Linked DNA regions of Homo sapiens: region 1 is linked to region 2. Evidence: fine-mapped expression QTL. A gene starts in region 2. The other region holds a variant in brackets. All regions are shown on one strand. Distances are from middle to middle. Region 1 has its middle 14 kb from the start of SPHK1. Region 2 holds the start of QRICH2 (glutamine rich 2).

The links.
Region 1: its variant is fine-mapped to the expression of QRICH2 in fibroblasts (GTEx, PIP 0.93).

The regions. Positions count from the first base shown.
Region 1 is chr17:76,366,414-76,374,740 of GRCh38, reverse strand. No RefSeq gene overlaps it. Among named protein-coding and RNA genes, the nearest start is that of SPHK1, 14 kb to the left of the region's middle. RefSeq lists enhancers at 5,587-6,087, 6,088-6,588. The variant A/G (reference allele first, on the strand shown) is at 3,842.
Region 2 is chr17:76,304,773-76,313,099 of GRCh38, reverse strand. QRICH2 (glutamine rich 2) reads left to right here and starts at 4,824. Exons shown (of 19, transcript NM_001388453.1): 1 at 4,824-5,635; 2 at 8,159-8,218. The coding sequence starts at 5,102. It overlaps PRPSAP1 (phosphoribosyl pyrophosphate synthetase associated protein 1), which reads left to right. Exons shown (of 10, transcript NM_002766.3): 9 at 84-230; 10 at 1,400-3,622. The coding sequence ends at 1,558.

The sequences.
Region 1 (8,327 bases), 62 kb before region 2:
AGAGGGCCCAGAGAGTGCTCCTTTCAGATCAGTGAGGAGCATACAAGTGGCTGGAGGACATACCTTTTCTTTTCTCTTTTCGCATCTTCCCTAGAACTATAATCAGCAAGGTTCTGCACACAAAAATCCTCAAGAAATGCCCGCAGGCAGACCTCTCCCATTGGAATCGCTGGCAGATGCAGCACGGCACCCCAGGGAGGGAGCCGGGTGCATTGCAGCAATGGAGGGCCAGGAAAGGCACCGTCCAACACTCCACCTCCTCCTGGCTGGGCACAGCAGGCTGATGGGTCCCTTGAGGTACAGATGGTCCCAATGCAGAGTTAAAAAGACACATCAGTCTTCGTGACTCTGCATGGCCTAGAAAAATCTATAGCATCAGGACGTGCGGCATTTGCAAACAAGCACAAACCATTTAAGACTGGGTTCAGTGGCACACGCCTATAATCCCAGCATCTTGGGAGGCTGAGGCGGGCGGATCACCTGAGATCAGGAGTTTGAGACCAGCCTGACCAACATGGTGAAACCCCGTCTCTACTAAAAATACAAAATTAGCTGGGCGTGGTGTCACATGCCTGTAATCCCAGCTACTCAGGAGGCTGAGGCAGGAGAATTGCTTGAACCCGGGAAGCGGAGGTTGCAGTGAGCTGAGGTTGCGCCACTGCACTCCAGCCTGGGCAACAAGAGCGAAACTCCGCCTAAAAAAAAAAAGACCGAGTTCCGATTCCAATTGCCGTGTGACAAGTATCTGCCATTACTTGACTCTCAGATTGAGAATTTTGAGCTTCTAAAGAAAGAAAACACTCAATAACTGCAAAAGATGATAAACTCAGGGTTGGCTCTGCCTCCTTTCAGCTCTTGGCAGGCGTGTCATTCCTGAGGGAAGAGGCATGTGCAGTCCCACTAGCAGATCTGTCACCTCAATTTGCAGCCTTTAGTGGTATAGGAGCATGCCGCCTGGGAAAGGCTGAGCGGGAGCCAGGAGCCACAGCAAAGCCCAGGACGCTGAAGAGCGTGCTTGTCTCGGAGGCCTGAGTCTTTTTTTTTTTTTTTTTTTGAGACAGGGTCTTGCTCTGTCACCCCAGGCTGGAGTGCAGTGGCGCCATCTCAGCTCACTGCAACCTCCGCCTCAAATCTTTTTTTTTTTTTCTTCCGGATGGGGTCTCACTCTGTCACCCAGGCTGGAGTGCAGTAGCGCTATCCCAGCTCACTGCAACTTCCACCTCCTGGGCCCAAGCAATCCTTCCACCTCAGCTTCCTGAGTAGCTGGGACTACAGTCACGCACCACAACCCCCAGCTACTTTTTTTTTTATTTTGTATTTTTTCTAGAGACTGGGTCTCACTCTGTTACCCAGACTAGTCTCAAACTCCTGGACTCAAGCAATCTGCACACCTCGGCCTCCCAAAGTGCTGGGATTACAGGCATGAGTCACACCTGATCAATTTAGTTTTTAAAAGCATGCTTGGAGCCGGGCGCGGTGGCTCGCGACTGTAATCCCAGCACTTTGGGAGGCCAAGGCGGGCAGATGACGAGCTCAGGAGTTCGAGACCAGCCTGGCCAACATGGTGAAACCCCATCTGTACTAAAAATACAAAAATTAGCTGGGCATAGTGGTGCGCGCCTGTAGTCCCAGCCTCTTGGGAGGCTGAGGCAGGAGAATTGCTTGAACCTGGAAGGTGGAGTTTGTGGTGAGCCGAGATCGTGCCACTGCACTCCAGCCTGGGCAGCAGAGCGAGACTCCGTCTCAGAAAAAAAAAAAAAAGAAGCATGGTTGGGTGGCTGTCTGGGTGACGGCTGCTGCAGGAGGGCAGTGTGGCAGGGGTTTCTCATCTGCAAGGACCCTGAGCAGAACAGCAGGAACCTAATTCTAGTTCTAAACCAACAGCCTGCGTGTCACGTATGCTCAAGGAAGGCTGGCATGTCACCCATGAAAATGGTCTTCACAGATGTGGAAAACTAAGCCAGATTTACCAACCGGTGCTTGAGAAAAATGTCTTTTAGAATGAGAGACTCAGATTCCTTAAAAAATTAAGCATAGGGTTACTATATGACCTAGTAATTCCACTTCTAGTTCTGGTCTGTACCTAAGAGAGATAAAAACATGTCCACACAAAAACTCATCCAGGAATGTTCATAGAAGCATTATTCACAATAGTCAAGAGGTGGAAACAACCCAAATGTTGATGGATGACTGGATAAAGAAAATGTGGCCTAGTCACACAATGGAATATTATTTGTCCATAGAAGGGAATGAGGTCCTGACACATGCTACAGCGTGAATGAACTTCGAAAACATGACGCAGAGTGAGAGTCCAGATGCAAAAGGTCACCTATTGTATGAGTCAATTTCTACGAAATGTCCAGAATAAGCAAATTTGTAGACAGAAGGCAGGTTGGTGGTTGCCAGAGACTCTGGGGAGAGGGAGAATGAGGTAGAACTGCTTACTGGGCATGGGATTTCCTTTTGGGGTGATGAAGATGTTTTGGAACTACATAGACGTAGTGGTTTCACAACGTTGTGAGTGTACTTAATGCCACTGATTATGCACTTTAAGATGTTATGTGAATTTCACCACAGATTATTTATTTTTCTTTTTATTATTATTATTTAAAATGTCCGCTATTTAAAAAGGAATCTTGGCTCGCTGCAACCTCCGTCTCTCTGGTTCAAGTGATTTTCCTGCCTCAGCCTCCCCAGTAGCTGGGACTACAGGCGCGTGCCACCACGCTCGGATGTGGTAAGTACTAAGAGGACTCCTGAGTTTGGCCTCGGGCTATCCCTTAAGAAAAGCTGCTTTCTGGAGAGAAGGCAACAGATGCACACAAGGGTGCCTGCCTAGGGAATGGCTGAGGGCCGCATCTACTTCTGGGGTCATTTAGCACTGAGGTTTCCAACTAGGGAGCACGTAGGAATCACCTGCAGAGCCTGTGCCCCACTGCCAATGACTATGACTTCACTCACTGCTCTGGAATTTTTCATTTTCTTTCTTTCTTTTTTTTTTTTTTTTTTTTTTTTGAGACAGGGTCTCTGTCACCCAGGTGGGAGTGCAGAGGCACAAACACAGCTCACTACAGCCTCAACCTCCTGGGCTCAAGCAATCCTCCCACCTCAGCTTCCCGAGTAGCTAGGACCACAGGGGCATGCCACTGTGCCCAATTTTTTTTTTTTTTTTTTTTTTTTGGTAGAGACAGAGTCTCACTATGTGGCCCAGGCTGGCCACTCTTGAGCTCAAGTGATCCTCCCACTACAGCTTCCCAAAGTACTGGGATTATAGGCATGAGCCACTGTACCCAGCCTGGTCTGGAATTTTCCAGAGTTCCCCAGTGATTCTAAGGTACAGACAAGTTTGGGAACTACTGACTTAGTATAAAGGAAGGCTGTTTTCCAAGTAGATGAACAAACTAAATAAGGATTCAGGGAGATTTGTGTAATTGCCACAGAAAACTTCTTGAAAGGCATTAGGCCGTGCACGGTGGCTCACACCTGTAATCCCAACACTTTGGGAGGCTGAGGCGGGCGGATCACTTGCGATCGGGAGTTCGAGACCAGCCTGGCCAACATGGCGAAACCTCATCTCTACTGAAAATACAAAACTTAGACGAGCATGGTGGTGGGCGCCTGTAATCCCTGCTATTTGGGAGGCTGATGCAGGAGAATTGCCTGAATCCAGGAGGCGGAGGCTGCAGTCAGCTGAGGTCGCACCGCTGCACTCCAGCCTGGGTGACAAGAGCAAAACTCTGTCTCAAAAAAAGAAAAAAAAAAGAAAGGCATTAGGAACTATAGTGATCCCAGTGACTATTTCACATCTGGAAATGAATCAGGCATACTGCAGAAATGACAC[A/G]TACTATTATAATCTCTCCCCACATCCTCCCAGACACCGGCGTGGGAATGTGGGAACAGTGACAGCACTGGCTGCCACCCAGGCTCTACGAGAAGCGGGGTCAGGCCTGGCTTTGCCGTTCCTACAGTGGCTCCCGCTAGGTGGTGTCAAAGCAGGCGCTCTTGTGAATTAAAAAAAAAAAAAAGCTAAATTAAATCCTATTTCCCTGTTGAACAGTAATACAATTTTGAAAATGCATTTTTCTTAAGAGCTAATTGGTATTTAATTACTGAGGGAGTCTATTTTCCCTAGTGTGTAAAATGAAGATAAACTTACCTTCCTACCATGAGGACTTTGAGACCGCACCCTGGTGGCCAGCTAGGATGTTAGCCTAGAATTTTCCTGCTGCCTCCACCTCTCGCCGCACTGTTATTTCCCAATATGGGTTAGGTTTCTAAGAACCTGACCGTGTTTCCATGGTGGTAGTTTTGGAATAGCAGCTTGAAATGTGTGAAGGAATGGGAAAGGAATGATGAGAAGAGGAGAATGAAGGAGGAAGCCATGGGTCAGTGGGGAAGGGGAAGGAGGTGCTGGGAAGCTCTCAGGTCAAGGCTACCTGGCTTAGGAGTTGGCTCTATGCACAGTCTGGAACTTGGGCTCATAACGGTGTCCGACTCGTGTCTTTCCACCAGCCCTGATATCCCATTTGTGTGAACCCTTCCTGGATAATCACTAGAAAGACAATTTTTCATCCAAGAAAACAGCATATGTTTCTGAAAGCACTTGACTCCCTGGGGAAGTGTTCACATTATCTGCTTCTGAGTAGTGAACCATCCTAAAGTGCAGTGGCCTGAAGCAGTAATTTACTAACCCCCACTGTGGGCTGCCGGCTGATGGGTCTCAGCTGGGTGGTCCTCACTTGGAGTCTCCGGTGGTTGCAGCGTCAGCGGGGCTAAACATCTGAGACAGCTCCTTACCATGGCGATGATAACAGGCGCTGGCTGTCAGCTGTCAGCTCAGCTGGGGCTGCTGGCCAGAGTGTGGCCCCTTGTGTGACATGGCGGCAGGGCTCCAGGAGGGAATGTCCCAGGAGTAGTCAGTCCAGGAGACCCAGGCCGAAGCTGCAAGGCTTTTCATGCCTGAGCCTCAGACATCCCAGAATGTCCCTTCTACCACTTTTTGGTCAAGCAAGTCACTGAGACCAACCCAGATTCCAGGGACAGGAGTTAGAATCCCCACCGCCTTTTGAAGAGCAGTTCATGCTGTGTCGCCCAGGCTAGAGTGCAGTGGCGCAGTCTTAGTTCACCGTAACCTCTAACTCCTGGGGCTAAAGCAATCTTCCTGCCTCACTTCCCAAGCAGTTGGGACTACAGGCATGCAGCACCACCACCGGCTCACTTCCCTCTCAATACAAGCGGCTAACGTTTATCCAGCTCTTGTTTTGTGCCGGCCCCGGGCTAAGCGATGCACATATGTAGCCAGTTTCATGAAGGACACATGTCCTGTTAAAGTGAACATTAACAAAAGGTTTAATTTTCTCTGATAAACACCACCAGCTCTGTTTGTTCGAAATCTCCATTTCCACTGAGCATAAGATTCCCCACGAGGGCACTCAGTATGATTCCACATTTTTCTAGCCATGTTTTGCTATTAAGACAGCCTAGTGCCGGGCGCAGTGGCTCACGCCTGTAATTCCAGCACTTTGGGAAGCCAAGGTGGGCAGATCACTTGAGGTCAGGAGTTCGAGACCAGCCTGGCCAACATGGTGAAACCCCATCACTACTCAAAATACAAAAATTAGCACAGGGTGTGGAGGTGCATACCTGTAATCCCAGCTACTCAGGAGGCTGAAGCATGAGAATCGCTTGAACCAGAGAGATGGAGGTTGCAGTGAGCCAAGATCGCACCACTGCACTCTAGCCTGAGCGACAGAGTGAGACTGTCTCAAAAAAAAAAAAAAAAATGAAAAAAAAAGTCAATCCTGCCTCAAAAGACCCTCATCCCTTCCCAGCACAGGCGCCAACACTGGGGTGAAGACACGGCACGTCTCTTCCCCCACCGCCCCATCCCTGTGCTGATTCTGTGAGGCTGCGGCAGGAAGGAGAGAAATTGAAAGCAGATGTGATTCCCGCAGGGCCTGATGGGTGGTGGCGCTGCTTTCCCCTTGCTGGGGGCTTTGTTGCAGAGACCAGGCTTTCTCAAGCTCAGCACTGTTGATGTTTGGGGCTGGCTCATTCTCTGCGGCAGGGGCCTGTCAGTGCACTGTTCCTCAGCGTCCCTGGCTTCTGCTCACCAGATGCCAGTAGCAGCCCCCAAGTTGTGACAACCAAAAATGTCTCCGGACCTTGCCAAATGCCCCTGCGGGACACACTTGCCACTGACTGAGAACCAGGGCTCTACTGATTTGGTGTGGCCAAGGGACAGCTGCTCAGGCCTGCTGATGAGAGGCGGTCTCCTAAGCGGCTCCCCTGGGTGACACGTTCTGCTGACTCCAGGAGGTGGCCTCATGCCATATTGCTCTGAGAGGGTACCCCCACTCCCAGTCCCGTAATCCGCAGGACTGGGATTCCCATACTCTGGACTCGACCATACTCTAGACTTGACTCTGGGCCCTTAGGTTCAGCATCCATCTTCTGAAGGGGACCAGGTGCGGTGGCTCACGCCTGTAATCCCAGCACTTTGGGAGGCCGAGATGGGCAGATCATTTGAGGTCAGGAGTTCAAGACCAGCCTGACCAACATGGTGAAAACCTGTCTCTACTAAAAATACAAAAATTAGCCACGTGTCGTGGCCCACACCTGTAATCCCAGCTACTTAGGAGGCTGAGGCAGGAGAATCATTTGAACCTGGGAGGTACAGTGCGGGGGTGGGGGGAGTCCGTCCCGCAGATCCTGACCCAACGACGGATGAATAACTTACACTGACACAGATATTCTGCTTGTCAGTCCAGCTAAGGGTCTGGGCCCCTCACAGACACCAAGGAAGGTGCTGTAAAGAATAGCAGCCATGGCCTCGACTGGCTGGCCCTGCTGGCATTTGTTCAGCACACATTAAATGACAAACGTCTCAAGTAAACACCACTAGAAGGTAATTACCATTGCTCACCCCCCAGGTAGACAGCAATCTTGCACCCATGGATGGTCAAAGGTTAGTCTTAGGACCACGTGGGTAAACAAGCTATTTAGATAGACTCCTCTACATTCCTGTGTTAATTACCCTTGCTATAACTCAAAGAGGATTAGGCTGCCTTCAGCCATAACTCTATTTTGAGGCTTTTGCAAAAACCTTCAGGCCTTCCAAGAAAGTTTGTGTTTATTTTACAATTTCTCCCACCATCCTGACTGAACCCCTCCAGTGGAGGTTGCAGTGAGCCGAGATTGTGCCACTGCACTCCAGCCTGAGCTACAGAGCGAGACTGGTCTCAAAAAACAAACAAACAAACAAAAACGTCTCCTGAAGGGATGGGTGGTCCCAGCCCTCAGTGCTTTCCAAACCTCAGGAGCCCCAGGGCAGAGCAGCCAATGCACAGCCAAGACAGCCAGCAGGAACACAGGTGTGCTTCCCTGCCCTCCCACACACTTGACAGACAGTGATTCCACTGTGTCCCCAACCCCTACAACCTCCATCTGGTTTCAAGAGAAACCAGTCAAGTCCTCTCAAAAGAGTGAGGCTTGGCCGGGCACGGTGGCTAACGCCTGTAATCCCAGCACTTTGGGAGGCCGAGGCAGACAGATCACTTGAGATCAGGAGTTGGAGACCAGCCTGACCAACATGGTGAAACCCCGTCTCTACGAAAAATACAAAAATTAGTTGGGTGTCGTGGCAGGCACCTGTAATCCCAGCTGTTCAGGAGGCTAAGGCAGGAGAATCACTTGAACCCGGGAGGCGGAGGTTGCAGTGAGTCGAGATCGCGCCATTGCACCCCAGCCTGGGTGACAGACCGAGACTCTGTCTCAAAAGAAAAAAAAAAAAGAGTGAGGCTTGCTCAGGCATGGCTCACACTTGTAATCCTAGTACTTTGGGAAGCCGAGGCAGGCAGATCACCTGAGGTCAGGTGAGAGAGAGAAAGAGAAAAATGAGGGGCTGGGCGGGGTGGCTCACGTCTGTAATCCCAGCACTTTGGGAGGTCAAGGTGGGTGGATCACCTGAGGTCAGAAGTTCGAGACCAGCCTGACCAACATGGTGAAACCCCGTCTCTACTAAAAATACAAATATTAGCCAGGTGTGGTGGCAGGCGCCTATAATCCCAGCTACCCGGGAGGATGAGCAGGAGAATCACTTGAACCTGGGGGTTGGAGGTTGCAGTGAGCTGAGATCACGCCACTTCTTTCCAGCCTGGGCGAAAGAGCGAAACTCCATCTCAAAAAAAAAAAAGATTGAGGCCTTTTCTCACAGACACCAGCTCTCCCCAAAAGGTGGCCCCTTCCCTCACTTCTCTCCCTCTTTCTTTCAGGGCAGGTGCAATGACATTTGACACCAACTACCTGGGGTTGGGCCTCAGGTGATG
Region 2 (8,327 bases):
GAAGAGAGTAGAGTGGTGTGTGCATTGACAGTATGGGCTAGAGGGTGTTTCTTTCCTACCAACTCACTCTGTTCTCCTCCCAGGATGACATTATTGACGATGTGGAGAGTTTTGTTGCTGCCGCGGAGATCCTGAAAGAGAGAGGCGCCTATAAGATCTATGTTATGGCCACCCACGGCATCCTGTCTGCAGAGGCCCCTCGCCTGATTGAGGAGTCCTCCGTAGACGAGGTCAGGCTGCTTCTAAATCTTGAGCCAAGATTTACTGCTGTGTTTTCTGGGAATAATAAAATGATTCAGTCAATACTAAATTGCTTAATCTGTCTATAGCTTTTCTAGCTTTTGCTGGCTAGCAGTTCGTTGGGACAGATACATGTTTAGGAATACAGATAGTCCACGACTTACCATGGTTCAACTTAGAAGTTTTTGACTTTATGATGATGCAAAACCATTGCAATTACGATGTAATGTATAGTATTCGATAAATTACTTGAGACACTTTATTTTAAAATAATCGCTTTTATTATAAAATGAAAGCCTTTGCCCTAGATGATTTTGCCACCTGCAGTCTAATGTAACTGTTCTGGGCATGTTTAAGGTAGGGCTAGGCCAAGTTAATGATGTTTAGTAGGTTAGGCGTATTAAATGCTTTTTTTTTTTTTTGAGATGGAATCTTGCTCTGTTGCCTAGGCTGGGAGTGCAGTGTGGCAATCTCGGCTCACTGCAACCTCTGCCTCCCGGGTTCAAACGATTCTCCTGTCTCAGTCTCCCAAGTAACTGGGATTACACGCGCCGGCCACCAGGCCTAATTTTTGTGTTTTTCTTAGAAACGGGGTTTCACCATGTTGGCCAGGCTGGTCTCAAACTCCTGACCTCAGGTGATCCACCTGCCTCGGCCTCCCAAAGTGCTAGGATTACAAGCATGAGCCACTGTGCCCGGCCTAAATGCATTTTCTACTTAAAATATTTTCAACTTATAATGATGCGTTTATCCAGACATAACCCTGTCATAAGTTGAGAGTTATGTTGAGGGTCTGTATATGTCTATTTGCATAACGGTTTGCTTGGGTACTTTAATTTGACACCCTAGGAGCATTTCTCTTGAGGCTGGAATTCTTCCCTTATGATCTGAGAGTTTTGCATAGCACTGGGGCTCACTGTGTTTCTGCATGGAGACCATGCCATTCCTAAGATTTTTGTCTTGTGTTCTGAGGCCATGTAACTTTTCCTTTGCATAAAATTAGTTAATTTTGGTTTATAAAAACTATACTCGGTGGAACAAGGTTTTGTAGTTTGGAACTTAGGCTGTGGGAACTCAATGTTAGATAAGCTTTTCTGTGTAACCAGCTTGGAGAACAGACTTCAGTAACAGCGTTTGTTTTCCATCACTGTGTGACTAGGTGGTGGTGACGAATACTGTCCCTCATGAGGTTCAGAAGCTGCAATGTCCCAAGATAAAGACTGTGGATATCAGTTTGATTCTTTCTGAAGCCATTCGGAGAATCCACAATGGAGAGTCCATGGCCTACCTTTTCCGAAACATCACTGTGGATGACTAGCTTTCACGAGGGTCTCGACCCTGGACCTCCTGAGGGAAACATGGAAAAAGCAGTGCCATGAGTGATACAGTGTTTCCTTGCAAGGGAGGACTCGAAACAGCCTGGAGTTAGATATCTTCTTTTGCCCGGATTGATGGGGAGGAGGGATTAAAAGAGTCAGGAAGAAGACAGAGCTAATGGATAAATATCATAACATGGCCTTACATGTCTGCTGTCATCAGCCCTGTTCCTTAAAAGTTCTAGCTGCTTTCTTAAAAATAATCTGAAAATCTTATTGATACTAAAGAGGAGTTAAAGGCACATAAAGTCTTAACTCTATAATGTTCATTTAGTTGTTTCAGCTCCAGGGAAATGGAGGTATTGATGTTGAACCTGGTTAGGGAAGCTGAGCGCCTGTGGCCCTATTACTATCCAGTTGGCCTCTCCCAAATCAACTTCAAGTCTTTTATAGAGAATCGTATTTTTCTTTCAGAAATTGTTATGCCTACAGCCATTGAAAAATGAAGCATTCATGTTGTTACATCTTCCAAGGATGTCAGATTAGAAAATAGCATCCCACCTCTGGGTATCTGAGTGGCTCTGAAGTTGCAAATAAAATAATTTGTTGTCTTGCTAGTCTTTTCATTAGACAGCAGAAGACCATGGATACAGAACAGCAGTCAGGTCTGTGGCTGGACACAAACACTTTCCCAGGTTCCACCCTCTTCCTAAGTGTTGAAGCTAAATCCTTGTTGAATACTGTATTTTAAATCTTTAAAAAAAAAAAAAAAAAGTCTAGGTGTGGTGGCTCACACCTATAATCTGAGTACTTTGGGAGGCTGAGGCAAGGAGGATTGCTTGAGCCCAGGAGTTTCAGACCAGCCTGGGAAACATGGCGAAACCCCCATGTCTACAAAAAATACAAAAATTAGCCAGGCATTGGTAGCATGTGCCTGTAGTTCCAGCTACCTTGGGAGGCTGAGGTGGGAGGATTGCCTGAGCCAAGGAGGTTGAAGCTGCAGTGAACTATGATTGTACCACTGCCATCCATCCTGGGTGACAGAGCAACACCCTGTCTCAAAAAAAAAAAACAGGCCAGGGATCGTGTCTTATGCCTGTAATCCCTGCACTTTGGGAGGCCGAGGCAGGTAGATCACCTGAGGTCAGGAGTTTGAGACCAGCCTGGCCAACATGGCAAAACCCCGTCTCTACTAAAAATACAAAAATTAGCCTAGCTAAGTTAAAAGCATAAAAAGACTACAAAGAGGCCAGGCATCATGGCTCACGCCTGTAATCCCAGCACTTTGGGAGGCCGAGGTGGGCAGATCACTTGAGGTCAGGAGTTTGAGACCAGCCTGGCCAATATGGTGAAACCCTGTCCCTACTAAAAATACAAAAATTAGCCGGGTGTTGGGGGAGGGGGTGCACGCCTGTAATCCCAGCTACTCGGGAGGCTGAGGCAGGAGAATTAATTGGTTGAACCCAAGAGGCAGAGATTGCAGTGAGCTGAGATTGTGCCACTGCACTCCAGCCCAAGTGACAGAGCAAGATTCCATCTCAAAAAAAAAAAAAGACTGCAAAGAACTAGTTATTTTGATAACCCCTTAAAGGCCTACTGTGTCCCAAGTTATTGGAATATAATGATGATCGAAAATCCTTCAATTAAATAAACAGTACCTCTCAGGCTGAAGTGAAAAATCTGAACTTGAACAGTAGTTAAAATAGTACAGTTATTCCTTACAATCCATGGGTGATTGGTTCCAGGACTCAACCTCCTGCCCATGGATGTGCAAGTCCCTGATAGAAAATGGTGTAGTATCTGCATATAAGCTATGCACATCCTGGATGACTTGTAATACCTACTGCAATATCCTGTGTAGATGGTGGTCATGCTGTATTATTTAGAGAATCATGACAGGAATCTGTACGTGTTCAGTCGTGGTTGGTTAAATCTGCAGATGCAGAGCTCACGGAGGAGGCTGGCCATGCATGGCACACATTCATAGGTTCTCTTTAAGTAGCCTTGCTGTGCTTCTGTTAGGAAGTTTTATTTATACGTTTTTGGGAAGAATCTTGTATGGGGAAGTCATGTCTCAATTGTTAACACCAGATTTGTCTCGTGCTGTTTAATCCTGCTTTGTAATGAGCTCAAGCACAGGCGCTTGACCAGGTGAGTGGTTTCTTTTCTTTTCTTTTTTTTTTTTTTTGAGACAGAGTCTTGCACTGTCGCCCAGGCTGGGGTGCAGTGGTGCGATCTTGGCTCACTGCAACCTCTGCCTCCCGGGTTGACGCGATTCTCCTGCCTCAGCCTCCCGAGTAGCTGGGATTACAGATGCGCGGTACCATGCCCGGCTAATTTTTTGTATTTTTAGCAGAGGGGTTTCACTATGTTGGCTAGGCTGGCCTTGAACCCCTTACCTCAGGTGATCCACCCGCCTCGGCCTCCCAAAGTGCTGGGATTACAGGTGTGAGCCACCAAGCCTGGCCGTTTTTTTGAGATCAATTAATTTATGGCAGGCTGGGCGCGGTGGCTTACACCTGTAATCCCAGCACTTTGGGAGGCCGAGGTGGGTCGATCACTTGAGGTCGGGAGTTCAAGACCAGCCTGGCCAACATAGTGAAACCCCGTCTCTGCTAAAAATACAAAAAATTAGCCGGGCATGGTACCACGCATCTGTAATCCCAGCTACTCGGGAGGCTGAGGCAGGAGAATCATGTCAACCCGGGAGGCAGAGGTTGCAGTGAGCCGAGATCGTGCCATTGCACTACAGCCTGGGCGACAGAGCAAGACTCCCTCTCAAAAGTAAAAAAAAAATTATGGCAGCACAGAAAAGGGACAATTAGCCACCAGTTAGTCATCTAGTGGCTAATTGGAACTGCCTGAATAGTGAGTGGGTTGTCTTTTCCAAGTTGCTTCACCTTTGATTGAACAAAATATGTGGACTGTCTGAGGGGACCAGGGCCCCAGGACTGCATCCCTTAGACATGGGGCCATAGACATGGGGCCACCACTCTGGAATGGACGCAGCTGATGACACAAAGCATGGTTGCCAGGAAACCCTCAAGTCTTTCCTTATGTGGCCCCGCCAAGAGTGAGTGAATCCTGGCCTTTCTAGGTTAAGGGGATGGATGGAGTCTAGCTGGATCTTAGGAGGCCTCCTCAGCCCGTTGCCAAGGCTCCCCTTGTGATCCTTGTGGTGGCCTTTACTTCCCCCCGCCCCCGTGGCTCGCAGGGAGGCGTGTTGTTACGTGGAATCTTCAGGGCACGCGGGGGCCCCCACGTTTCAAACGTCCGCCGGCGCGGGGACTGGGAGTCCAGGGCTCCAGCTCGGGGACCCGAGGCCAGCGACAGACAGCGGAGGGGTGGCCATCGCGGACCCCGCCGGGGAGCGGAGGCGCAGATTCCCTGGAGGCAGGAGCTCTGTCCAGTGACTCGGCCGGACCCGGGGCAGGGGCGCCCCGAGGACCTCGCAGGGCCCCCGAAAGGCCCCAAGGCGCGGCGTGCAGTGAGCGGGAAGTGGTTGGCCGGCGCCCCGCGGCGGCGCACAGCTCCTGACAGCCACGATGCCGCCCGCGACCACGGTCTCCCTCCGGGAGCTGGCGGACCTCTCCATCGGCACGCCAGAGGTGGGCGCCGTCAACTTCACGGCCCTGCACACGCTCATCGTGGCCATGCTCAAGAACCTCGACCTCCAAAATACCCGGATCGACTTCCAGCCCTCGTCGCCCGAGCCCAGCCGCTCGCTGCAGTCCGTCCGGAGCTCGTTCAGCATCCCGCACCTGCCCGCGCCCAAGGAGGTGCCCAAGGGGGCGCCCCGGGAGAAGCGCAGGGGCGTGGGCCAGGCGCCTTCGTCAGCGCTGGAGAGCCAAGTGAAGGACCTGGGCGGCCAGGTGGAGGACCTGAGCAAGCAGCTCAAGCGTGTGGACGGCCAGGTGCAGGGCATCGCCACGCACGTGCAGCACTTCTCCCAGGCCAGCGGGCTTGACCTGGCCGCGCTAGAGTGGCCGGAGGAGCAGGAGGTGGGCGTGCGGGCGTTCGATAGGGTGCGGACTGGGAGTATCATGAAGGACGCCGCCGAGGAGCTCAGCTTTGCCAGGGTGAGCACGCACACGGAGGCACGCGCAGGCCGTCTGCCTCCTCCAGGCCGCCCTCCAGGCCTAGCCGAGTCCCCACCACCCTGGAGGGGTGAGCGGTGGTGGGGACGGAGGGGATGGGGACCGAGGAGGTGCCAGACCTCAGTGCGACTGGCTAAATAGAGTGGCCCATGCTCTACCTTGCAGTCCACGGGGCTGCAAGACGTGAAAATCCTAAAAGAACGCCACCAAAAGGCCTAGGGCCTCCCCGAGCTGGAGGGGCCTGGGGACCCCACCTCCTAAGTGTAGTGGCCCCATCCCACCCCCTCCTTCCTAGCCCCTGTTTACGGGAGAGGTTCGCCCACCACTTATCAGACATCCAAGGACCCAGAGCTGGCTCAGAGTGGGGCCGGCAACTTCTCAGAAGATTCTTAGAGTGAATTCCCTTTTTAAAATGAATAAGGACATGAAGAGATACGTGTTGAGGACAAAGGCTCCCAGAGAAGGGGAGTCAGGATGGAGAGTTGGACCTCAGCTTCCTATGGCCATGACACAAGCCACAGCAGGCAGGGGACCGTTTCACTTGGACTTTTTTTTTTTTTGAGAAGGAGTCTCACTCTATCACCCAGGCTGAAATGCAGTGGTGCAGTCTCGGCTCACTGCAACTTCCGCCTCCCAGACTCAAGCGATTCTCCTGCCTCAGCCTCCCGAGTAGCTGGGATTATAGGCGCGCGCCACCCCGCCTGGCTAATATTTGTGTTTTTAGTAGAGAAGGAGTTTCACCATGTTGGCGGGGCTGGTCTCAAACTCCTGACCTCAAGTGATCTGCCCGCCTCGGCCTCCCAAAGTGCTGGGCATTACAGGCGTGAGCCACTGAGCCCTGCCTTCAACTGGACTTTTGTTTTCTTGGAGGGACAAATGCATGTAATCATTGAGTATAAGTATTGTCCAGTGAACAGCAGGAAGCAACGCAGGTCAGCGCCAGGAGGTAATAGACACGTGCATGTCTCAGAGCCACCTTAGGTTGGTTCTGAAAGAAAAAGCAGAAGCAACTAGGAAGGCAGCTGGGTGGGGAGGCCAAGAGGAGAGACAGGAGGGGAAAAAGAGGCCGGGAAGAGGCAGGAAGAAGAGGCCAAGCCCCAGCAGGGGAGCCCTGGCCGCTCATGCCCTCCTGCCATATCACCCCAGGTCTCGAGACCGCAGCACCAACTCACTTTTGCTCTGGGAAGCATGTCTGCTTTCCTTTTCAAACTTTAAAGTGTGGTGGGGGTTTTTTTTGTTTTAATTTTTTTGGGTTTTTTTTTTTTTTTTTTTTTTTTTGAGACACATTCTCACTCTGTCACCCAGGCTGGAGTGCAGTGGTGCATTGTCGGCTCACTGCAACTCCATCTCCTGGGTTCAAGGAATTCTCCTGCCTCGGCTTCCCGAGTAGCTAGGATTATAGGTGCACACCACCATGCCCAGCTAACTTTTGTACTTTTAGTAGAGATGGGGTTTTGCCGTGTTGGCCAGGCTGGTCTCGAACTCCTGACCTAAAGTGATCCTCCTGCCTCGGCTTCCCAAAGTGTTGGGATTACAGGCAAGAGCCACTGCGCCTGGCCTTTTGTTTTAATTTTTACGTAATCTTAGATTCTAGAAGTTTGCAAAAGTTATAAAAAGTAACTTGTTTTATTTTTGTTTATTAATATATTTTTTCTTAATCCCAAATATGATAGCACCTTATGTTGTAGCGATTTGCTTTGGTTCTTTTGAGGTGCTTTTCTCTTTAGATAGCACAGATGTTCAGCTACTGTTGAGGTACCTGGCACCCTTCCTTCCTTGTAAGGCAAGGTGGGCCTCATCCTACAGGCTTTCACAAGTGGGTTGGAGCAAACTGAATCCCAGGACCAAAGGGTCCCATCCCTGCAGCAGCACTTACTCCTGCCATGCTACCAGCCAGGTCCCCCACTGCATCTCACTTCCCTTCCTGCACTTGGCTGGGAAAAGACCCAGGAGCCTGGGCTGACTGGCCAGGTAAAAACCAGGTAGAAAGCAGGGGCTCCTGCCTGTAATCTCAGCACTGTGGGAGGCCGAGGCTGGAGGATTGCTCGGACCCAGGAGTTCAAGACCAGCCTGGGCAACATTGCAAGATCTTATCTCTACAAAAAAATGTTTAAAATTAGCTGGATGTGGTGGTGCATGCCTGAAGTCCCAGCTACTCAGGAGGCTGAGGTGGGAGGATCGCTTGAGCCTGAGAGGTTGAGGCTGCAGTGAGCTGTGGTGGCATCACTGCACTGCAGCTTGGGTGACAGAGCAAGACCCTGTCTCAAAAAAAAAAAAAAAAGGAAACCAAAAAAACCCAAGTAGAAGAAGAAACCCTCCCTTTCCATAAGAGCCACACAAATTCCCCCTTTCCTCGTCTCCTGGCACTGAGTCAGTGTGTGAATGTGCGTGTATGCATGTGTGTGTCTGAGTGTGAGAGTGTGTGTGCGCATCTGTGTGTGTGTGCATGTGAGTGTGCGTGTGTAGGGGCCACTGTCATTCTCCTTTCCTGAACTCTTCTTCCAGGTACTTTTACAGCGGGTTGATGAACTAGAGAAGCTATTCAAAGATCGGGAGCAATTCCTGGTAATACCAGCCAGTTCCATGGGAAAGGGCTCTCCAGGGGGCTGGCCGTCTCTCAGTGTGGCCCTCTCTCCAGGGCTTGTCCATCCAGGGCAGGCAGTGTGTGCCCTCT